3 separate regions of the Homo sapiens genome follow, and regions 2 and 3 are each linked to region 1. Evidence: fine-mapped QTL for protein levels in blood plasma. A gene starts in region 1. Each other region holds a variant in brackets. All regions are shown on one strand. Distances are between the middles of the regions.

What was found. A credible set is the group of variants that fine-mapping cannot tell apart. PIP is the posterior inclusion probability: the model's chance that the variant is causal. Protein levels are from antibody-based Olink assays in UK Biobank. Linkage for the fine-mapping came from a reference panel and not from the study's own genotypes, which makes the PIPs less certain.
Region 2: its variant is the best candidate, but not a certain one, in a credible set for the plasma level of the TP53I3 protein (UK Biobank, PIP 0.59).
Region 3: its variant is the best candidate, but not a certain one, in a credible set for the plasma level of the TP53I3 protein (UK Biobank, PIP 0.66).

What each region holds. Positions count from the first base shown.
Region 1 is chr2:24,079,908-24,088,058 of GRCh38, reverse strand. It overlaps TP53I3 (tumor protein p53 inducible protein 3), which reads left to right and starts at 3,225. Exons shown (of 5, transcript NM_004881.5): 1 at 3,225-3,870; 2 at 4,907-5,174; 3 at 7,028-7,240. The coding sequence starts at 3,733. It also overlaps a transcript of FAM228B not described here. RefSeq lists enhancers at 2,440-2,940, 3,688-3,737, 3,888-3,987, 4,583-5,513 and a silencer at 3,498-3,677.
Region 2 is chr2:24,115,964-24,124,143 of GRCh38, reverse strand. PFN4 (profilin family member 4) reads left to right here and starts at 810. Exons shown (of 5, transcript NM_199346.3): 1 at 810-1,026; 2 at 1,597-1,725; 3 at 2,844-2,981; 4 at 4,462-4,567. The coding sequence starts at 1,609. It overlaps FAM228B (family with sequence similarity 228 member B), which reads right to left and starts at 675. Exons shown (of 11, transcript NM_001145710.2): 1 at 611-675. RefSeq lists an enhancer at 1-173 and a silencer at 244-743. The variant C/T (reference allele first, on the strand shown) is at 4,482.
Region 3 is chr2:24,183,466-24,191,641 of GRCh38, reverse strand. FAM228A (family with sequence similarity 228 member A) reads right to left here. Exons shown (of 6, transcript NM_001040710.3): 5 at 7,997-8,147; 6 at 1-1,230. The coding sequence ends at 1,011. Among named protein-coding and RNA genes, the nearest start is that of FAM228A, 13 kb to the right of the region's middle. The variant C/T (reference allele first, on the strand shown) is at 4,736.

The sequences.
Region 1 (8,151 bases):
TAAAACCACAAAAATGGGCCGGACCCAGTGGCTCACGCCTGTAATCCCAGCACTTTGGAAGGCCGAGGCAGGTGGATTGCCTAAGCTCAGGAGTTTGCGACCAGCCTGGACTGTTGCAAAACCCTGGGCTGGTGAAACCCTGTCTCTACTAAAATACAAAAAATTAGCTGGGCGTGGCAGCGTGCATCTATAGTCCCAGCTACTTGAGAGGATTGCAGGGAGCCGAGATCGCCTGGGTGACAGAGTGAGACTCTGTCTCAAAAAAAAAAAAAAAAAAAAAATTACCCTGGTGTGGTGGCTCACACCTGTAGTCCCAGCTACTCGGGAGGCTGAGGCAGGAGAATCGCTTGAACCTAGGAGGTGGAGGTTGCAGTGAACTGAGGTCAGGCCACTGCACTCCAGCCTGGGCAACAGAGTGAGACTCAGTTTCAACAACAACAACAAAAAAGAATTCTTATAGCGTGTAATCTCCAGTCCCTGCTTCCCCTTCCCAGGGTCTTTCTGGTGACCAGCTCATCCTGAAGCTATCTAGGGCCCCCACCCTAAGTCATATTAGCATAAACTCGAGTGTGCTTATAAGGGTTTGTTATTAATATAAAAAGTCACTTCTATCACATACGAAATTCCAAGGGTTTTAGGAGCTCTGCAGGAGAACAAAATATAATAAAAGATACTTATTGGCCAGGCAGAGTGGCTCATGCCTATAATTCCAGTACTTTACAGGCTGAGGTGGGAGAATTGCTTGAGTCCAGGAGTTCATGATCAGCCTGGGCAACGTAGCAAGACCGTATATCTAGTTAAAAACAAAAGAAAGAAAGAGATGTTTATTCAGCAAATAACAAAGGTTTTAGGAGTGCTATTGTAGGAACCCAGGACAAAGACCAAAAATATATATTTCTTATTACACACTGCAAGATTACATCGACCAAGGGCTCACTAAGATAAAATCTTAGGCACTTTCAACTACTAGTTTTACTGGGATACTTTAGTATACTTAGTGGTTGGTATTATTAGATTTTTTTTAAAGTTACTCCTTGCATCTTAAAAGTTCTTATTTAGCACTTACATTACACATTCCTCATCTATCTTAATCCATTCCATTTTCTTAATCCAATCAGTTTTAGTGTCGATTTTTGCAAAGTTTGTTATTTACAACTATTTCCTTTCCATCTGTCTCTGTTCTAGGATATTTATTTGGTTCAAACCTTTCCTCGATTTTGGACAGATGTGTATCCGGATGATGTGTCTCTGAATCCTTATACATCCTCAGACATGTTTTTTGCCCTAACAAGTGAATTATATCTTAATGGGGTATATTGAGTTACAGTGCTTTTCTTCTAGTCAATAGACGCTAGTCTACTCTCTTCTAGCTTCCAGATTGCAGATAGAAACTTGCTGGGCACAGTGGCTCATACTTGTAATCCTAGCACTTTGGGAGGCTGAGGCAGGAGGATTGCTTGAGTCCAGGAGTTTGAGACCAGCCTGGGCAACATAATGAGACCCCTACACTACAAAAAAGAGAGAGAGAGAAAGAGGGGGTGGGGAAGGAGGGAAGGAAGGAAGGAGGGAGGGAGGGAGAGAAGGAAGCCATTTTTTTTAACCAATTGTGAGTAACTTATTCTTTCCACACTTGTTAGAACCTGAAATTTTATAAAATATAGGCATGCATTTTTGTTCTTATGAATCCATCCTTTAGTGAATGTTTTCAATCCGTATAATCTGGTAGAATTTAGGAAAACTGTATTCTTTTATTTGGTTAACTATTGAATCTTCTTCATCCATTCCTCTTCCTCCTTCTAAAATTCCTTTTTTTTTTTTTTTTTTGAGACGGAGTCTCACTCTGTCGTCCAGGCTGGAGTGCAGTGGTGCGATCTCGGCTCACTGCAAGCTCCCCCTCCCGGGTTCACGCCATTCTCCTGCCTCAGCCTCCCGAATAGCTGGGACTACAGGCGCCCGCCACCACGCCCGGCTAATTTTTTGTATTTTTAGTAGAGACGGGGTTTCACCGTGTTAGCCAGGATGGTCTCGATCTCCTGACCTCGTGATCCGCCCGCCTTGGCCTCCCAAAGTTCTGGGATTACAGGCGTGAGCCACCGCGCCCGGCCTAAAATTCCTGTTATTCTCATAGCAGGGTCTCCTGAATTTTTCCTTAAGTCCCATCATTTTATTATTTCCATCTCTATAGGCTTTTGCTCTGTTGTGTTAAAGAAATAATTATTCAATGATACTTGTTAAAGCACATTAAGGAAGACTTTATTTAGCACCATCGCTACAGGTTTAGGGACCACTGCAATGAGTTCTTGCAGTGGAGGAGACAGGTTGGGATCAACTCTGAATGCATCACGGACAAGTGGGAATGTATAGCCAAGGAGCAGTGTAGGGGGTCAGTGGATGGAAAATTGGTAAGAGGCATCAGGGGTAAGGGGGATTCTATCTAAACTGACCTAACAGGATTCTCACTGAAGACAGGCCAGGGTGGTCGGATATCACTTGGGGGATGGTGGAGGATGAGATATTGAGGGTGATCAGATGTCAAGGATGGGAGGTTCTTACTAAAACAGGAATTTACAAGGAGTGCTACGGATATGTAGTGGGGGGAGGCCAGGGATGCTGCTAAACATCCTACGATGCACAGGACGATCTCCTACAATAACGAACTAGCTAGTCCAAAATGTCAATAGCGCCGAGATTGAGAAACCTTCATGTAGCTTACGGATACAGCTTTTACCCAATCGCCAGCATCCTTCTCCTGGGGCTGAACCTCTCCCCCAGGACTGTCAGGAGGAGGCGAGTGATAAGGATCCCAGGACTGCGTTTTGCCTTCCTTCCCCACCCCCACTCCCAACGGCTCCTTTCTCTTCTCTTAGCAGCACCCAGCTTGCCCACCCATGCTCAAGATGGGCGGGATGCCAGCCTGTTACATAAATGTGCCAAAAGCCTGGCCATGCCTGGAAAATGGACCAATCCGCCCGCCAAGAGGTTGGGTCTCGTTCCCTAGAGAGAAGGAAGTTTCCTCTCCTTGAAGTGAGAGCTAGAATCGCACTTTCTGTCAAGCTGAGAGAAAGACTCTTTTCCAGAGGCTAAAAGGACAAGAAAATCTGATTTGCTTGCTTCTAACTTTGCGTTTTAAAGGGGGAAGGAGGAAAGGAAAGAGGGGGAGGGTGGTTCTGCTTAGCCCCACCCCTCCGGCTACCCCAGGTCCAGCCGTCCATTCCGGTGGAGGCAGAGGCAGTCCTGGGGCTCTGGGGCTCGGGCTTTGTCACCGGGACCCGCAGGAGCCAGAACCACTCGGCGCCGCCTGGTGCATGGGAGGGGAGCCGGGCCAGGAGTAAGTAACTCATACGGGCGCCGGGGACCCGGGTCGGGCTGGGGGCTTCCAACTCAGAGGGAGTGTGATTTGCCTGATCCTCTTCGGCGTTGTCCTGCTCTGCCGCATCCAGCCCTGTACCGCCATCCCACTTCCCGCCGTTCCCATCTGTGTTCCGGGTGGGATCGGTCTGGAGGCGGCCGAGGACTTCCCAGGCAGGAGCTCGGGGCGGAGGCCGGGTCCGCGGCAGACCAGGGCAGCGAGGCGCTGGCCGGCAGGGGGCGCTGCGGTGCCAGCCTGAGGCTGGGCTGCTCCGCGAGGATACAGCGGCCCCTGCCCTGTCCTGTCCTGCCCTGCCCTGTCCTGTCCTGCCCTGCCCTGCCCTGTCCTGTCCTGCCCTGCCCTGCCCTGTGTCCTCAGACAATATGTTAGCCGTGCACTTTGACAAGCCGGGAGGACCGGAAAACCTCTACGTGAAGGAGGTGGCCAAGCCGAGCCCGGGGGAGGGTGAAGTCCTCCTGAAGGTGGCGGCCAGCGCCCTGAACCGGGCGGACTTAATGCAGGTACCCAGGGCTCAGCCGCGCCGGGGCGGGCGGGACTCCAGAGCCTCCCTCTCAACAGCACTCAGTGGACATTGACCAGACGTGAAGGCGTGCACCGCTCCACACCCAGCAGGCAGCTGCGCTGGGGCTTCCCAGACCTAAACCCAGGGCGCCCTCTTTGTTCATGCAAAACAAGGGGGAGTACTTGTAAAGCAGAATCCACCCCGAGCTAATCCATAGCCACTCAGGCCTCCAGATGAGGGCGGAACTAACATTGTTGTGGGGTGTGGGCACACTTACTCCCCAGGCTACCCTGTTCGCCATCTTAATTCTACAGATAAGGAAACTGAAGTTCAGTGAGGTTAAGCAGTACGCCCAAGGCCGTGACACTAGCAATCAGAAGAGCTGGGATTCAAGCTGAGGTCTTTGTGGCTCCAAAGACCTCTTAACTCTTTCCACTCTGAGAGTCCCGGAGCTGACAGCGGGCAGTACTCTTAAGAATTTTCTTCTGTCTGATGCTGATTTACTGACCTGGGCCAGCTGCATTGGTTGGGGTCATTCAGAAATGTGCATCAGAATCCCCCGGGGCACAAAAGAAACGTGATGGGGGCCCAGGCACGTGTACTTTGAAATACTCCTCAGGTGGTTCTGCCACACACTCCTGGTTAAGTCCCTCTGCTCTACAGCTTCTGAGGACTGGGGTGAGTGAGCACAGAGCCTAGCGCTTGATGCATGGGAACCATCGTCAAGGTTCCTAATCCCACTACTATTATTTCCCGTCTGGGACTCAGTTTCTCCATCTGTAAAGCAAGGGGTTCAGATGAGGTAAATAGCTAAGGACTCTACCAGTTATAACATCCACTGATCATGTGACCTCCAGTTTATTTGCATAAAACTAATGGCCTCTCCTTTTTCTTCTCCTTACTTACAAAAACCTGACTTCATTCTGAAATTTATTTTTGAAAAAAAAAAGAGGGGATCTTGGAAGGGGGGCCAGGGGTAGTGACATACAGATTTCTGATCATGCTCACCACTTAGTGCACTTCTTTCTCTGCAGAGACAAGGCCAGTATGACCCACCTCCAGGAGCCAGCAACATTTTGGGACTTGAGGCATCTGGACATGTGGCAGAGCTGGGGCCTGGCTGCCAGGGACACTGGAAGATCGGGGACACAGCCATGGCTCTGCTCCCCGGTGGGGGCCAGGCTCAGTACGTCACTGTCCCCGAAGGGCTCCTCATGCCTATCCCAGAGGGATTGACCCTGACCCAGGCTGCAGCCATCCCAGAGGCCTGGCTCACCGCCTTCCAGCTGTTACATCTTGTGGGTGAGGAGGCCTCCATGCTCACTCCACACAATGTGGCTCAACACCTTCATAAATCAGCCAACTTGAATCCCAGCAATCCCCCAGGGCACTCCCAGGCCTTCCTGTATCACCTGTATTGTCAGGTCCTCAAACCATGTTAGAAGGGTTTAATGTTGAGGCTGAGAATCATGGTTAGCAGATAGAGGGTCTGGATAACACTAGATAGGAGGCCTATGTACATGTTAACACCGGACGCCCAGCAGAAGTCCCAGCTTCTTAGAATCATACTGAGCTTCTCTCTGGGGTCCCAGTGCAACAGAAGGGACCAATTGACTCATTTATTCCTCCTCAATCCCACAGAGGCCAGTCAAGAACTCACATAAGGGAATCTAAGAAGACTTGGTCCTTGCCTTTAGACAGTGCAGTGTAACTGAGAAGGCAACATATGCATAAGATCAGATGACCATAGAGTTTAGAAGGATAGCCCTGTCTATGATAGAAGCTGGAGATGAGTAAAGATGGTGTGGACAAGGGTAGTCAGAAGGCTTTTTGGAAGGCTTTGAAGGGTGGGTAGACTTGTGAAGGACATAAGGCATGCCAAGGTGGCCTAAGAAAGAGTATCAGCCAGGCAAGGTGGCTCACACCTATAATCGTAGCACTTTGGAAGACAGATCACGAGCCCAGGAGTTCAAGATCAGCCTGGGCAACATGGCGAAACCCTGTTTCTACAAAAAATACAAAAATTAACCAGGCATGATGGTGCATGCCTGTTGTCTCAGTTACTCAGGAGGCTGAGTTGGGAGGATCACCTGAGCCCAGGAAGGTCAAGGCTGCAGTGAGCCATGATCATGCCACTGCACTCCAGCCTGGGCAGTAGAGTGAGACTCTGTCTCAAAGAAAAAGAAAGAGTAGGCTGGGCGTGGTGGCTCACGCCTGTAATCCCAGCACTTTGGGCGGCTGAGGTGGGTGGATCATGAGGTCAGGAGATCGAGACCATCCTGGCTAACACGGTGAAACTTCATCTCTACTAAAAATACAAAAAATTAGCTGGGCGTGGTGGTGGGCACCTGTAGTCCCAGCTACTCAGGAAGCTGAGGCAAGAGAATGGCATGAACGCAGGGGGGGTGGGGCAGAGCTTGCAGTGAGCCAAGATTGCGCCACTGCACTCCAGCCTGGGTGACAGAGTGAGACTCCGTCTCAAAAAAAAAAAAAAAACAGTATCAAGGTGAGACCAGCCACTGCACTCAGTAGTGAAGGATGACTATTGTGATTTGTGAAAAATGAGGCTGGAGCCAGATCATGGTGTCCTTGAATATCAAGCTGTCTGGACTCAATGCAAAAGCCAATGGAGAAGCACTTTACATTTTGAGGAGGAAGTAACATAATGCAAGTGCCATCTTAGGAAGAGGAGCCTGGTGGCTGTGTGTTGCCTGGATCAGGAAGACCAGCTGGAGGCCAGTTTCAGACTCTAGAAGGACTGGCTTTCGGTGGTGACCATGGGAATGGTAGTTGTTCTTACTTATTCAGGTGTAGGTCAGAGATGTGCATTTTGGTGTTATAGGTAAAATAGAGATTATGGATGTGGCTGCTTATAGCCCTGTTTCAAAAGGCTGTTTTCCACTTTAGCCAGAGGCAATAAGACAGAAAAGGTCGTCAATATGCTCTTTTTCTTTCTCCAAAGAACAAGATGGTTTGTATTTGAGTCACAGCGTCCCACCCCCACCAGCCCACCCCCACCCCACCAAATAAAAAAGGAAAAGCAAAAGATTGATTTGGCATTTGGTGCAACGGCCAGGTGATCTTGATAGAATATGCCTGTGTGGGGAATGTGTAGCAGTTGCAAAGTAAAGAGAACCCTGTACTTTCTGTCACAGGAAATGTTCAGGCTGGAGACTATGTGCTAATCCATGCAGGACTGAGTGGTGTGGGCACAGCTGCTATCCAACTCACCCGGATGGCTGGAGCTATTCCTCTGGTCACAGCTGGCTCCCAGAAGAAGCTTCAAATGGCAGAAAAGCTTGGAGCAGCTGCTGGATTCAATTACAAAAAAGAGGATTTCTCTGAAGCAACGCTGAAATTCACCAAAGGTAAACAACTGCTTCTACAGTTCAGCAGGAATTTAAGAGATGATTAAATAAAAGCCCCACCAGTCTCAAAGTTGCCAGTGCTGTGTATCAGTCTTACCTCTGCTAAGTGCACAACAGCTGCCCTGGCCAAATTCTAGTACTATGGTATTTGACCACTGGAGACAGGCAGTCATATTTAAATCTAAGATGGTTTCCATGTGCATTCTTGCAAGAGATAAGATTCATCCACACTTTAGACCATGCAGACTTGGTCTGGAATTATCCAGCACCTTTTCTTCCCAACCAGCCATTCCACACTTAGTTAACAGGAGGCTTGGAGGCAGAGACCAGTTTGGAGCCAGCCATGGTAGGGTTGGGTGGTAGCACCCTAAATGAGTAAGTAGATGTGCACACCTCTGTATTCCAAAGCCAGACGTGTCTATTTTTGGCTCATCCCTTTCCGTTTCTCTTTCTTTTTTTTTTTTGAGATGGAGTCTCACTCTGTCACTGAGGATGGCGTGCAGTGGCTTGATCTCGGCTCGCTGCAACCTCCGCCTCCCAGGTTCAAGTGATTCTCCAGCCTTAGCCTCCTGAGTAGCTGAGATCACAGGCGCACCACCACGCCCAGCTAATTTTTGTATTTTTAGTAGAGACGGGCTTTCACTATGTTGGCCAGGCTGGTCTCGAACTCCTGACCTCAGGTGATCCACCTGCCTCAGCCTCCCAAAGTACTGGGATTACAGGCATGAGCCACCATGCCTGGCCTCCATTTTTTATGTGAGTAGAAAAGGAGAGATGAAACCAAAGCTAGAAAGCCTATGATTCCAATAACCTAGTGCGGACACTTCCTAACTTCTATGTGAACAACTAGCCTAGGTTGGGCCTCCTGTATTCTGTTCTCAATCGTGCCTGGGTGTCAGTGGGACTGTACT
Region 2 (8,180 bases), 36 kb before region 1:
GGCGAGATGCTCTTTGAAAGAATCCCCCGTCCCTTGGAATGGATTCCCACGTCCCCCTCCAAGGCAGCCCATTCCAGCCAGTGTGGCAGCTTCAGCCTGGCCTCTCGGAGTCCCATTTGCAACACTTTTCTGACTTTGGTGGCCTCGAGTGGGAAGAACTGCAACTTTCTGGCCACAGAAACACAGGCTGAGCTGCTTAGAGAAGGCAGGGAGGGGCTTTCGGTCATACTGCGCGAGTCTTCGAGCTCTGAGCGGCTCGAAGTCCTCCCCGAGGCACGGGTGCGACGGGGATGTCGTAGGCGTCCGCACCCGCTCTCGCTCATCGCGCCCACTCCCGGCCCTTCCTCCCACCCACTAGGCCGGGCGCCTGCGGCCTCCACGCCAGCCCCGGGCCGGGGGCCTCCCGCGCAGGCGCGTCGTGCGCGGGGACCGCCCGGCCTGGCGGGGAGGTCGCCGGCCGCGACAGGCACCTCTCTGCCCTCCCAAGGCCAGCAGGCCCGCGGCCGTCCTGCTACACACTCGGGCCCGGCCCGACGACCCCGGAGCCGTCCGACTGCGGCTGGAAGGGAGCCCGCCCGCGTCTGCGGAACGCGCGAATGTTGGCGCCCACCGTCTCCCGGACGCAGCGCCGCGCGAGCACTCCGCCCCCTGCGCCGCGGGTTCCACAGCGAGTCCGCGCGGGCGGTGCCGGGGCGGCGGAGGACGGCTTCAGGCCCAAAGGGGATTGGGCGGCGGCTCTAGGTGGCGGGTCTTGGTTTGCGGAAGGGGCTGGAGTCGCTGCTTCTCGGTGACCGGCGCGTGGCCCGGCCAATCCTGCCGCCGCCACCCACCCGCAACCGCGTCCGTTGACGGTCGGGTCCTTGGTCGCCGGGTCCTTGCGGGCACCACAGAGCGGGGTGGCGTCCGCTCCCTCGAGTCCTCGGTGCCAGGGAATTCACCGCTCACCACCCCCTGCCCCGCCTTGGGTCCTGCTCGGGGACCAAACCACTGGAAGGCAGTGGCGGGAAACGGGCGCCTGTGCCGGAGGTCCTGATGAGGGGGGTCCAAGGCTTGGGGACTTGTGCGGGAAATGTGGGTTTAAGTGCCTTCAAGGTGTTTTTAGTCCATTGGGATGTTGATCAGCGTTCATAGCTGGCGCTGATGCAGGTCACCGGGAAGGGAATGTGTGGGTTTATGGCCACGCATAATCTCTTTTAGTCGTGTTTAACTTAGCAGGGTAGCTCTCCATCCTGGCTGGGTTTTGTTTTTTGTTTTTATTTTTTATTTTACAGAGTTTTTCTCAGTGTGTAATGTTTGTTTTTAAATCGCAGATAATCCTGATGTAAACCATTGACATAGCCAGAAAATCACCAGGCTGTGATTTTCCAAACTCAGCTTCATAACCTATTCTGTGTGAGCTGTGATTTTTCTATGATTCTGTTTTCCTCTTTGGGTACTGGTGGGCCCTGAATGATGGACCACCGTTTTCACCCTGTACCTTTTCAAAGTACACTTGCTGATCTTAGAACTGTCTGCAGTGTCTTAAGGACATTTGTATTCACATGCCTTTTAAAAGCTAGCCAGAGTCAATGGCTTCAACTGCACTTTCCCTTTCAGAGTTGAGGGAACATGAGCCATTTGCAGAGCTTATTGTTAGACACCCTCTTGGGAACCAAGCATGTGGACAGTGCAGCCCTCATCAAAATCCAGGAGCGGAGCTTGTGTGTAGCATCACCAGGTTTCAATGTAAGAAAAAACAAGTTTGGACCTAAGACTTGATTTACTTATTATTTCTATTCTTCCAAAAAATGAAGCAGACATGACTTTTTTTTTTTTTTGAGACGGAATTTCACTCTTGTTGCTTAGCCTGGGATGCAATGGCATGATCTCAGCTCACTGCAACCTCCGCCTCTCAAGCGATTCTTGAGCCTTAGCCTCCCGAGTAGCTGGGATTACAGGAGTGCGCTACCAGGCCCGGCTAATTTTTGTATTTTTAGTAGAGATGGTGTTTTACCATGTTGGTCAGGCTAGTCTCAAACTCCTAACCTCAGGTGATCCACCTGCCTCGGCCTCCCAAAGTGCTGGGATTACAGGCATGAGCCACCGTGCCCAGCCCAGACATGACTTTTAAATGAACTTTTTCTGTAAAGAGCTACATAAATATTTTAGGTTTCTAGGCTTAGTCTTTTTACTGTTGATATAAAGGAATACCTGAAGCTGGGTAATTTATAAAGAAAAGAGGTTTATTTGGCTCACAGTTCTACTGCCTGGAAGACTGGTCATCTGTGAAAGCCTCAGGCTGCTTCCACTCATGGCAGAGGTGAAGGGGAGCCAGCATGTGCAGAGATCACAGTGGGGGAGAGGAAGCAAGAGAGAGCAAGTGGAGAGGTGCCAGGCTCTTTCTAAGAGCCAGCTCTCCTGGAACAAATACAGTGAAAACTCACAGCTTCCCCCAGCTCGCAGGGAGGGCATCAGTCTATTCATGATCCAAATACCTCCCATTAGGCCCCACCGAAAACGCTGGGAATCAGATTTCAACATGAGATTCAAACTATAGCACAGGGCCGTAGAGTCTCTGTCACAACCACTCAACTCTGCAATTGTAGAGGAAAAACAGCCATACATAAAAGAATGAATGTGACTGTGTTCCAATAAAATTTTATATTTATGGATACTGAAGTTTGAATTTCATATAATTTGTAAGTGTCACGAAGTGTTATTCTTTTGATTTTTTTTCCCCAACCATTTAAAAACATGAAAACCATTCTTAGCTTGCAGGCCATAAAAAACAGGTAGTGGGCTAAATTTGGCTGGCCACCAGCCATAGTTGGCTGACTCCTGCTCTAACCATGTAACCTCTCCAGGTAACGCCCAGTGATGTCCGAACACTGGTGAATGGATTTGCCAAGAACCCTTTGCAAGCCCGAAGAGAAGGACTGTATTTCAAGGGAAAAGATTACAGATGTGTCCGGGCAGATGAATATTCTCTTTATGCCAAAAATGTGAGTGCTCAAGATTTGAAGAGAGCTGAGTAAAAGAAAAGAATTTGCCTCCAAATTTCCTTGCTCTGCCTGATCCTTTCTGTAAAACAGATTAAATCCATTAATGTCTTGAGCCATTGTCTTGAGATAGCAGTCTAGTGCCAGGAAGACATATGTGAAAGAAAGTCCTATCAAGAGCCTGGTTTTGAGAAATGTTCATTCCAGAATCTATTAACTGAGCCTTGCCTGAACTCTTTCCAATACAGTCCCACCTTCATACTCTACATCCTCCTTTAAAAAAAAAAAAAAAAGAGATAATCATTTCTGTGCTTAAAACATTTCTCAGTGGCCAGGCACAGTGGCTCACACCTGTAATCCCAGCACTTTGGGAGGCTGAGGTCAGGAGTTCAAGACCAGCCTAGCTAACATGGTGAAACCCTGTTTCTACTAAAAATACAAGAAAATTAGCCAGGTGTGGTGCGCCCTTGTAATCCCAGCTACTTGGGAGGCTGAGGCAGGAGAATTTCTTGAATCCAGAAGGCAGAGGTTGCAGTGAGCCGAGATCGTGCCATTGCACTCCGGCTTGGGCAACAAGAGCGAAATTCCATCTCAAAAAAAAAATTTTAAAAAAAATCAGCTCTCTGTTGCTTATAAGGAATGAAAGAGATGAAAATCATTCATTGGATGCCCTATATTATGGGTTAGGCATGCTGCTTCATCCACATTATAAACTAAATAATCTCATTTTACAGATGAGGACACTGAGGCTTAACAAGGTTAAATAACCCTTACTCATGCAGCAGAAAAGGAGGCACTAGAATTCAAGCCCAGAGCTGTCCAATTCCAAAATGTACGACCTTTCCATTACATCAGTTTTGTTTTGTTTTGTTTTGTTTTGTTGTTGTTTTTTTTTTTGAGACGAGTTTCACTTTTGTCGCCCAGGCTGGAGTGCAATGGCACGATCTCGGCTCACTGCAACCTCCACCTCCTGGGTTCAAGAGATTCTCCTGCCTCAGCTTACCGAGTAGCTGGGGTTACAGGCGCCTGCCACCACGCCTGGCTAATTTTTGTATTTTTAGTAGAGATGGGGTTTCACCATGTTGGCCAGGCTGGTCTCAAACTTCCAACCTCAGGTGATCTTTCTGCCTTGGCCTCCCAAAGTGCTGGGATTACAGGCGGGAGCCACTGCACCCGGCCTACATCAGTTGTTCTAATTGGGATGGGGTATATGATAATCAATTGCAGAACTTTTTCAAAATCCATCTACCATTATTATAACAGTCTGAAACTTTTTGAGGAAAGGCAACTAAATTGGTGGAAAAGAGTGGACAGTCCAAAAACAGATATATAAACATATGGAAAATATATACGGAATATGTATATTCCATATATATTCCAAACATATGGAAATCAGGAAATGGTGAAAAACGTAGCTGGAGCATGACCACTGGTCCTGTGATTAGAACCAAGAGCAGAATATTCTCTTATATTCTTTATACAGGAGAACACTGGTGTGGTTGT[C/T]GTGAAGACCCATCTGTATCTTCTGGTAGCAACTTACACTGAGGGCATGTATCCTAGCATCTGTGTGGAAGCCACAGAGAGCCTGGGTAAGTTGGCCTCCTAGTTCCTGTCTTCATTCCCTATGTTAGTTGGGTCTTCCGACTACGAGTAACAGAGATCCAACTCAAACCAGCTAGGGCAGAAAGGAGGAATTTATTGGAAGGATGCTGAGGTTATTTACATAGCCACTGGAAGGACAGGGTGCAGCTGAGCCATGGGGAAGGTAGATTCAGGGACTGGAACACTGCTAGGATTCTGTCTTGACTTCTAAATGAGTCAGCTTTGTTCTGTCTCATAGCAAACTGTTTCCTTTCCTGGCTGATATCATGGCCAAGCCTCCCATAATACCCCTTAATTTCTCTTAGGACCCTGATTTGGCAAGTTTCAGGTCATATGGTTTACCCCTGTATCAGTCAGCTATGTAGGTGGGGCAGGATAGGGGAGGGGGGAGACAGCAGGGTAAAAAGGCAGAGATGTGGCTGCTGGGGGTCTACCCTATATAAAGAGACATTTTACAGGAAAAGGAATTACTGTGAGTCAGGCAGCCACTTTGTTGGTATATACTGCATTCCCCCTCCGTGTCTATACATTTTTGAATAAAGATCTCATAGAGAACTAGCTTGGGTATTATATCGGTGAGAGTTGAGCTTAATAAATGGTAAATTGTGTTTGTGTTTAGATTTTTCAAAATCTAAATTTAAATTTTAAAAAGTTTACTGGAGTTGCATAAACACTCCTTTGAAACAGAAGCCTCTAGTAACAAAAGCAGCCACTCATTCATTCATTCATTCATTCAACAAACATTCAGAGGTACTTACCATGTGCCCTGCACTATCCTAGATAAATTAGGGAAGCAGAGCTGGTTAAGATATAGCTTCTGCCTTCCATGCCTCTGTACATGCTGTTCTATCTGCCTAAAATATTTTCTGTTTCCTTCCTGTCCCTCACATCTATTCTGCAAATTCCTAATCATCATTAAAGAACCAAGTCAGATCTCAGGCTTCTATCCATTGTGGTATGTATTTTATGCATACCTTTATGATTATCCCCATTACAGTTCTTTGTTTATCTAGATTGTGAATCCCTGGAAGGCATTTGTCTTGTCTTAATCCTTCTTTTTCTCCATTACCTAACACAGTGTCTGATGTTGGGTAGGCAATTAGTACATGTTTGATGAATAAATCAATGAATTACTTCGGCCTAGCAGAGTCAGGGAAGGCGCCAGAGAGCTGAATCTTAAAGGGCCAATTGAGAAATTAAGTTTATCACAGAAACTATATACCTATGTACAGATATGCCTCATTTTATTGCATTTTGCATTATTGGACCCTTCCTGAACAGATGTCAGGATTTGAAGGAGGCTCCATTTCAGAATTGTAGGGCAGGAGCAGAGAGCAGAACAGAGACATAGAGAGCCAGGTTAATTATCTAATTAAAATAACCAGAATATGAGATTAGAAAGATGGGCAATTTGGCTGTCAGGAAGCCAGGCTCTTACCCTGTCAGCTAGGGCTCAGGGCTAATTCCCCAGAGGAGACCAGATAAATTGCCTGACTACTGTAATGTAGGTCATGTGGCTGGCACTAAAGGTTAGTATTCTTGCTTAGGGCCACAAAAAACTCCACAGACTCCAAAGAATGTGCCCTGGTTAGAAGTGCACTGCTGGCATCACGCCATTAATATCCCACTGCTCTGGGAAGGGACAGCTATCTTGGAAATGGTCGTATGATCAGGAAGGATGGACAAGGCTGATATCCACTCAGGAGCCAGTTGTCTTATGACTGACTTTTGTTTCCTTTACTCCTTTTTAAAAAAATATTTTTCTCTATCTAAAAAATTATACGTGATCATTGTAGAAAATTTGGGAAGTAAAGAATTACAGGCCAGATGGGGTGGCTCACACCTGTAATCTCAGCACTTTGGGAGGCCGAGGCAGGTGTATCACTTGAGGTCAGGAGTTCAGGACCAGCCTGGCCAACATGGCAAAATCCTGTCTTTACTAAAAATACAAAAATTAGCTGGGTGTGGTGGTGGGTACCTGTAATCCCTGCTGCTCAGGAGGCTGAGGCAGGAGAATCACCTGAACCCAGGAGGTGGAGGTTGCAGTGAGCCAAAATAGCGCCATTGCACTCCAGCCTGGGCGTCACAGCGAGACTCTGTCTCGAGAAAAAAAAAAAAAGAAGAAGAAGAACTATGACCATTTAAAAATTGTATTATGAAAGATTCTAGGGGCATGAATATTAATTAAAGAAAACCTTTAAATAGACAGGAAAAGGATGCTATGCTACTTCTGTCACACAAATTAATCAGGTTTGTGCAGTGGCTCACGCCTGTAATCCCACCACTTTGGGAGGCCAAGGTGGGTAGATCATTTGACGACAGGAGTTTGAGACCAGCCTGGAAAACATGGTGAAACCCCATTTCTACCAAAAATACATAAATTAGACCAGGTGTGGTGGTAGGTACCTGTAATCCCAGCTACTTGGGAGGCTGAAACAGGAGAATCACTTGAACGGAGAGGCAGAGGTTGCGGTGAGCCGAGATCGTGCCACTGCACTCCAGCCTGGATGACAGAGCGAGACTCTGTCTCAAAAAAAAAAAAAAAAAAATGCAGGATTGTTTTTAAAATAAATATATTAGAGAGTCACATTTGTAACATTGGTAAAATGTTAGCATCTTTAATTCTAGGTCCTTAGTTGTTTTTTGTTTATTTTGTGTTTCTGTTTTTCTTTTTCTTTTTTTTTTTTGAGACACAGTTTCATTCTATCAGCCAGGCTAAAGTGCAGTGGTGTGATATTGGCTCCCTGCAACTTCCAGGTTCAAGAGATTCAAGATTCAGCCTCCCAGGTTCAAGAGATTCTCCTGCCTCAGCCTCCCAAGTAGCTGGGACTACAGGTGCCTGCCACCACACAGGCTAATGTTTGTATTTTTAGTAGAGACGGGGTTTCACCATGTTAGCCAGGCTGGTCTCGAACTCCTGACTTCAAGTGATCTGCCCGCCTCAGCCTCCCAAAGTGCTGGGATTATAGGCGTGAGCCACTGCACCCGGCCAGGTCCTCAGGTTGAAAAAAGAATCTTAAGCATACGTTGTGACTTATTCTGCAAGACTCTGTATAAAAAAAAATGAAGTGCTACCTGGCATGGTGGAGTGCACCTGTAGCCCTAGCTACTCAAGAGGCTGAGGCAGGAGGATCAACTGAGCCCAGGAGTTTGAGCCCAGTGTGGGCAACATAGTGAGACCCCATCTTTAAAACGTGAGTACATCAAGTGCTGTAATCAGGTTTTGTTTTGTTTTGGAGACAGAATTTCGCTCTGTCGCTCAGGCTGGAGTGCTGTGGTGGGATGTCAGCTCATTGCAACCTCTGCCTCCCGGGTTCAAGCAATTCTCCTGCCTCAGCCTCCCAAGTAGCTGGGACTACAGGAGCATGCCACCATGCCTGGCTAATTTTTTGTATTTTTAGTAGAGATGAATTTTCACCATGTTAGCCAGGATGGTCTCGATCTCCTGACCTCATGATCAACCCACCTCGGCCTCCCAAAGTGCTGGGATTACAGATATGAGCCACCACACTTGGCCGTAATCAGTTTTAAGTCTAGGTCATAGAATACATATAGGAGAGGAGGGCAGCAGTTTCTTTTATTCTCCTGAGCCCTCTCTCA
Region 3 (8,176 bases), 100 kb before region 1:
TCACCACACACACGAAAACAGTAAATGTGAGCTGGTGGGTATGTCAACAAGCTTGACTGTGGCAAACATTTCACAATGAATACCTATAGCAAATCATCACGTTGTACATCTTGAATATTTGAAAAATACATGGAATGAGGAGCTCCCTGTGCTCTCAGATATAATTATGCTCAGAGGAAACTGCTGAAGAGTCACAGGTAACTTACCACAGACGGAGAATCCCTTACTCCCTGGAGAGACCGGGGACAGCGATGGGACTGAGCAGGAGCTGGGTCACAAAATACCTATCCAGGCTCACAGGCTGGAAAGCAGCAGCAGTCCCCCATCCTGTGTGTGTGGTGGTGAGGGTGGGAGTGACGCTGTCAGGTCCTGAGCTGAGCGGTGGCCCACCAAGCCCCCTAGGCCTTCCCTGGGAGGGTCCTGCGCCTCAGGCCTCAGGGCACAGGGCGTGGCGGAGAGAATGGAAGGGGAAATAGACCAGGAGCTGAAAACTGTGTCAAATGAACCATGAGCTCTGGATAAGAAATCCATACTCAGAAAATTCCTACATATAAAAATACCTTTTAAATATCAAAAAATCTCATCTTGCCCTAATTTTTTGGTATAAATTTCATTTCAAAAACTTCCCACCAGTTGTGTGTGGACTAAGGAGAACACCATCTTTGGTGCAGTTTGGATGGAGTAAGTGGAAAATGGTAGGAAAGTGGCAGAAGGGCAAAGGCCCGGGCGAAGGCGCTGAAGAAATCTCAGGGGGAAAAGCCCCTGTGGCCAGGTTGGCCCTCACCTCGGAAGGACAGGATGTCTCCGGAAAGTGGGGTCCAGGTCCCACATTTACCACTTGTCTGAGTTTCTTCATGCAAGGCTTCCCCGCCCGAGGGGCCCTGTCAGAGCTGCAGTGCTGAGCCTGAGGCCACCGCCATTTCTCCCTCCTCCTCTTCACACCCTTCTTCTTGGGCCATGCCTCCTCCGCCCTTGGGTGCCTGTCTGACAGGGAGGGCTGTGGCGGTGGCTCATTCTGGAACCAGTATGTGCTGCTCGTGGGTGCTGCAAAGCCCTGCATGCCAGCCCCGCCCCAGGCCTCTGCTCACCAGACCCTTTCTTTCACCCACTTTGTTCTTCTGGCTGAGCTTTGAGGAAAGGAACTGCCTTTCAAACGCAGCCTGACTTAGGTCGGCCGTCTTTTTCTCTTTTCTTTTCTGTTTCTTGTCTGCATAGATGAGCTTTTCAGGACTGTGAAGAAAAGCAGAAAAAATTGTCTCGATTCAGCACAGATGGAATTGTACCATCAAATAGTTTCCGAAGATTAATGCAATGAACTCAATCGTCACTTTTGAGAAGGAACGACTGACCAGCCATCACTGGTGGCTGTCCCTCAATCTGCCTGCCCTGTCCGTACCTCTGCTGGCCCAATTCCTAGGGAGGTGGTGACTTGGGGACCCTTCCCCAGCCATGGCTGAGGCACCAGGTCCAGAGCTTCAATCCCTATGGCTGTAGTTGGGACAAAGGGGCTTCCAGGCAGCCTCTGAGTGCTCAAACCAGAAAGTCAGGCAGAACGGCGCCTCCACTTGCCAGCACTCACAGGAAAGCACAGAAAGCCCATGTGCAAAGAAAGAGAAACAGAGCAGGTTCACGAAGAGAAGTAATGGTGAGTGCCACATAGCCCCAAAGAGGCAGGGACCAGCCTCCCAGTCAGTCCCCCGAGCGCCTGGCTCCAGCCTCCCAGTCCGTCCCCCGAGCAGCCTGGCTCCCTTCCTGGCTTGGCTTCCATGACATACCAATGCTCTCTAACATATCGAGCCCCCTCCCGCCTTTCCTTTGAGAAGGATTCTGGCTTTTGTCATCAAACTGTCTCTGCCTCACCTCGCCACGTGCTCTCAAGTCCTTTTCTTACTTCATCAAATAGCCACACGAGGCATCCTCTGGGTGTGTCCTCCCGGAGGAATTTCACCAGGGCTGCCACCATTTCTGCCCCAGGAAGCCTAGCCCTATTGAGGGAAATAAGCCTTCTCTTTTCTTCCTCCATTAATTCATTCAACAACCACTTATTCATGATCTACTATGCTCCAGCTAAGTGCTGGGACCACCAAGATAGTAAGATGCAGTCCCTGCCCTCAAGGGGCTTGCTGATGGAGGAAAGGGCCAGTAAGGGGCTGGAGAGTTCTGTGTCCCTGTGATAACTGCCCTCTTGCCTGCACTGGAATGGCCAGTGACAGACAGAGGGAGCAAAGGCAGGCAACAGCCTGGCAGGTCAGGGAGTTAAGAATGTGCTGACTTGACCCAGAGGTTTTCATGGTTAATCAATCTTCCTTTTATTTAAGTTGATGGGACTTCTGTGATGAGGCCGGAAAGGGTGGTAGGGCCCAGATGGTGCCTCATGTGCCATGTTGAGGGCCTGGGCTTTGTCATAAGGGGAATGGCACTGAAGGGTTTCCAGTGGAGGAGTGCTGATCACTTTAAAAAGACCACTCTGGCTGCTGGGCGAAAAATGGATTGGAGGAGACCAGCCTGAAGGAAGAATACCAGCGGAGGAGCCAGAGGGGAGATGACGCCAACAAAGCAACATGAAGCCTTTGTCTTGTTGTGGGGGTGGGGGGGCTATGTAATTACTGGTGTTTAAATAAAAATGTTTGTTAAAATGATAAAGGAACCATAAAACCAGAAATAATACATAAAACTTCCAAATCACTAGGGTAAGCATAAACAAAGTAGCACTGTTTATTCCAACAAAACTCAGGATGGGGAATGAAAACAAAATATTGAGAGTGTATAACAGACCTCCTGTTTGTGTAGAATATAGAAGTCTGCACAGGCTAAAAGTCCTGCTGAAATAAATAGAGAAGAAAAAGCAGAAAATTTACTACCAAAATTAAGAATTTTAAAATCACTGGACAGCTTTAAAAAGAATTCCAGAGAGGCGAGAGCCTTCAGGAATGAGTTGACAATCTCCAACTCTTACCTTCCTCTGTGGGAGCATTTCAAGTACCAGGTCACCAATATTAAGTACCAAGGTAGAGACTGATTTCTCTGTGCTTCTAGCATCTTTGGTGGATTTTTGTCTTTGGGTCTGGTTGATGTCCTGACAGGTGGGTATTTAACCTTGTTCTCAACATCACCCTCCCGCTAAGAGGCAAGTCAAGCAATGTGCTTGGTTTCTCAATGGAGGACAGAAACTCTCCAGGCCCCGAGTACAGACAGCATTTCCCAAAACCTATTTGAAAAAGAATCAAGGAGGGGTGGGGAGGGGGAAGGGAGAGCATTAGGAAAAATAGCTAATGCATGCTGGGCTTAATACTTAGATGATGGGTTGATCACCTAGGCAAACATTTACCTGTGTAACAAACCTGCACAATCTGCACATGTATGCCAGCTCTAAAAATAAAAATTAAAAAAATCAAATAGAAATTCTAGATCTATAACTGAAAATAATAATTCAAAGGATGGGTTTAACAACAAACAGACACAACAGAAGAGATAATAAAATATCTGGAACCAAACATGGAAAGACAAAAAGGATAGAAAATATACAAAAATGATCAGAGACAGGGGATCAGTGAGAAAATCTAAAATATGTTTAACTGGAGTACCCAAAAGAGAGGAGAGGAGAATATGGCAGAGGGAACAAAGAGAAAATAACTGAAAACTTCCTAGAACTAACTAAAGACAACCTACAGATTCAAGAAGACCCATGAATTCCAAGTAGGATAAATAAAAAGAAATCCACATCTAGAAACATCACATAAAACTACAAAAAATCAAAGACAATGAGAAAATCATAAAAGCATCCAGGGGAAAAGACAGATTACCTTCAAAGGAACAACAGTAAGACTAGCAAGTGACTTCTCAATTGAAAGAGTAAAAGACAACAAGATATATGTTGAAAGAAAATAACTGCCAACCTAACATTCTTAATCCTGAAAACATCCTTTAAGAATGAAGGTGAAGTCCGAAAAGGCTAAATGTTGTATGATTCCAACCATATGACATTCTGTAAAAGGCAAAACAATGGATACAGCTAAAAAAAAAATCACTGGTTGCTAGGGGTTAGTGGGGAAGAGAGATGAATGGGCAGAGACAATTTTTAGGACAGTGAAACTATTCTGTGTGACACTGGAACAGAATGATGGATACATGTCATTGTACATTTGTCAAAACGCATAGAATGTACAACATCAAGAGTGAACCCTAATGTAAACTATGAACTTTGGGTGATAATGTCAATGTAGTTTGTACCACTGTGGTGCAGGATGTCAACAGTGGAGGAGGTTGTGTTTGTTGGGGGACAGGAGGTGTACGAGAACTCTCTAGGTACTTTCCACTCACGTCTGCTGTGAACATAAAATTTGTTACGAAAAATAAAGTTAAGTTGAAAAAAGGAGGGAAATAAAGATGTCTTAAAGCAAACAGATTTTTCATGAGCAGATGCACATTTATGAAAACTGTAAACAATATTTCTGTTGTTTATTTGTTGTGAGGTACATGGTAGAGTATAAATGACATGACATGAGACCTAGAATTTTCCCACAAAACTGTGAGCACAAAAGGGAAAGTGGGGTAAAGTGAGAGAGAGAGAGAAAGGCAAAATGTTGATGGCTGCTGAACCTGGGTGATAGGTACATAGGAATGTGTTGCACTCTCTACATTCAGTGCATTTGAAAATGTTTGTAATAAAATATTTTAAAAATGAGTCAGTGTAATTTTCCACAGGCGGGGCACAGAGGCTCACATCTGTAAATCC[C/T]CCAGTACTCTGGGAAGCCAAGGTGAGCGGATCACTTGAGGTCAGGAGTTTGAGACCAGCCTGACCAACGTGAAACCCCTTCTCTACTAAAAATATAAAAATTAGCCAGGTGTGGTGGTGGGCGCCTATAATCCCAGCTACTCAGGAGGCTGAGGCAGGAGAATCACTTGAACTTGAGAGGCAGAGGGTGCAGTGAGCCAAGATCATGCCATTGCACTCCAGCCTGGGTAACAGAGCAAGACTATGTCTCAAAAAATAAAATAAAATAAAATAAAAATGTCCACATTAACAAAGGAGAAAAAATTAAATATCAATAAATGCATAAAAATTAATATATGTCAAAATCTATTATCTAAAAAAAACTGATAGCAAACTAAGAAAATGAACTTCCTTAACTTACTAATGGAAATCTAAAAATAATGTAAAACACAAAAAACACCAAAAGCTTTCCCTTTGAGTTTAAGAAGAATACAATGAAGCCAATTTTCACCACTTCAACTTTGTGCCAGAGATCTTAACTGGTACTGTAAGGTAAGGAAAAGAAATAAAAGGTATAAGGAATGGAAAACAAGAAATAAAATTCTCTTTATTAGAAGATAATATTGTGGGCTGGGCAGAGTGGCTCACACCTGTAATCCCAGTACTTTGGGAGGCCGAGGCAGGTGGATCACCTGAGGTCAGGAGTTCGAGACCAGCCTGGCCAACATGGTGAAACCTCATCTCTACTAAAAATACAAAAATTAGCCGGGTGTGGTGGTGCACACCTGTAATCCCAGCTACTCAGGAGGTTGAGGCGGAGGTTGTAGTGAGCCAAGATTATGCCACTGCACTCCAGCCTGGGTGACAGAGCGAGACTCCATCTCAAAAAAATAAAAAGAATATTGTGTACATAGAAAATCCAAAAGACTCTATAGATGAAATGTCAGAATTCATAATAAAGTTTAGCAAGGTTGCCAAATACAAATTCAACATATGAAATCGTTTTTATTTCTATACATTACAATTACCTAGAAAATGAAATTATATATAATAATAAAATAGGAATAAGTAAGAATAAATCTAAACAAAGATCTACAAGACCTTTAGACAGTTTCTTATCCATAGTACTTACTGACATTTGGGGCTGAGTAATTCTTTGTTGTAGGATATTTGGCTGCATCCCTGCCCTATGTCCAGTAGATGCCTGTAGAACCCCATGCCCCTGACAACCAGAAATGTCTCCAAACATTGCCAGCTTCTTAATCAATTTGATTAAGAACCACTCCTTTACATAAAATAAGACCCACACTAATGGAGAGATATATACCATGTTCATGGATTAGAGGACTCAAAATTGTAAAGATGTCAATTCTCCCCAAATTGATCTACAGATTCAATGCAATCCCAATCAAAATCCCAAGTATTAGGTTGGTGTAAAAGTAATTGTGGTTTTTGCCATTACTTTTTTATTTGTTTGTATGTGTGTATGTCTACATGAAACTTGAGCTAATTATAAAATATATTGGTGTATTTGTTCTATCAGGTATCAAAACTCATTAAAAAGCTATAGTAAACAAATAGGCTAGGATAGAGAACCTGGAAATTAAGTATACATAACAGCAGTGAATTTGTATAAAAGTCTACACTGCAGAACAGCAGGGAAATGATATTTTCAATAAATGGTACTGAGGAAAATGGGTATCATTAAAGGGAAAAAATTCAATTGGGCCCCACATAAAATACATACAAAAAGCAATTCTAACTGTATTATAAGCCTAAATTTGAAAAGCAAAACTATAAAAGCAGGCCAGGCACGGTGGCTCACACCTGTAATCCCAGCACTTTGGGAGGCCAAGGCAGGTGGATCACCTGAGGTCAAGAGATCAAGACCATCCTGGCCAACATGGTGAAACGCCATCTCTACTAAAGATACAAAAATCAGCTGGGTGTGGTGGCGCACACCTGTAGTCCCAGCTACTCAGGAGGCTGAGGCAGGAGAATCACTTGAACCCGGGAGGCAGAGGTTGCAGTGAGCCAAGATTGTGCCACTGTACTCCAGCCTGACGATAGAATGAGACTCCATCTCAAAAAAAAAAAAAAAGGCCATACAGCTTTTGGAAAAGACATCTTAAAATAATGTATAAAAAGCACTAGTTATAAATATTTGACTATATCAAAATTAAGAGATTGCACCACTGCATTCCAGCCTGGACGACAGAGCGAGACTCAGACTCAAAAATAAATAAATAAATAAATAACAAATGTGGATTGTGGAAACGAAAATACCAAACTGGATTGTTCATAATAGCCAAAATATGGAAACAACCCAAATGTCCACAACAGTGGATTGCTTAAATGATGGCATAGTCAAATATAATGGAATATAATCAGAAAACAGAAGTTAATACACTGGAGCTATATGCAACAACAGAAAGGAATCTGAAAAACATAATGGTGAGCAAAAGCAGTCACACAATGAACTGTACATGTACAAACCCTCAACAGATGAATTTTATGGTATGTAAGCTGTATCTTTTTTTTTTTTTTTTTGACAGTGTCTCACTCTGTTGCCCAGGCTGGAGTGCAGTGGCATGATCTCGACTCACTGCAACTTCTGCTTCCCGAGTTCAAGCGATTCTCCTGCCTCAGTCTCCCGAGTAGCTGGGATTATAGGCATCTGCCATGATGCCCAGCTAATTTTTGTATTTTTAGTAGAGATGGAGTTTCACCATGTTGGCCAGGCTAGTCTCAAACTCCTGACCTCAGGTGGTCCACCTGCCTCGGCCTCCCAAAGTGCTGGGATTACAGGTGTGAGCCACCGTGCCCGGCCTGTAAACTATATCTTAATAAAGATGTTTTTTAAAGAGTCAGTCATAAAAGAATAAATGCTTTCAGGTTCTGTTTATATGAAATTCAAAAATACGCAAGATAAACTATATTGTTTAAGGATACAAAGTTAGTTGATAACACCACAGGGAGAGCAAGGAGGTGAACACTTATAAAGTGAAGGGAGCTCTGGGGCAGGGAGAAGACTGTCTCGGGAGGGGGCAGGCTCCCTTTCTTGAAATGGCTGGTGATTCCACAGGACTGACTCAGGGACTCGGTAAGCTGTTTATGTTTTATTCTGTCCTCTACATATATTTCATAATACAAAGGTGATGATAATAATAATAAAACTATAAACTACTAAAAGACAAAAGTGTGACTAGTTACAAGAGCTTCAGTAGGAAATAAAGTAAGTTGCAAGTTAAACAAATATTTGTTTGTTCTGCTCATCTGTACCTGTATTTGTAAGTTTTACTCCTGGCTCTTGCAGAGGCTTTATGCCACTCTTTTGGAATCACACAGTGTGAAGTGAAAGTGAAGTAGGGCGAGCTGGCATGCAGCCTGGCCTTCTCTATTTCTTCAAGTTCTTTTATGGAATGTCGTTTTCCTACAGGAAGATAAAAAATCGAAATCAAC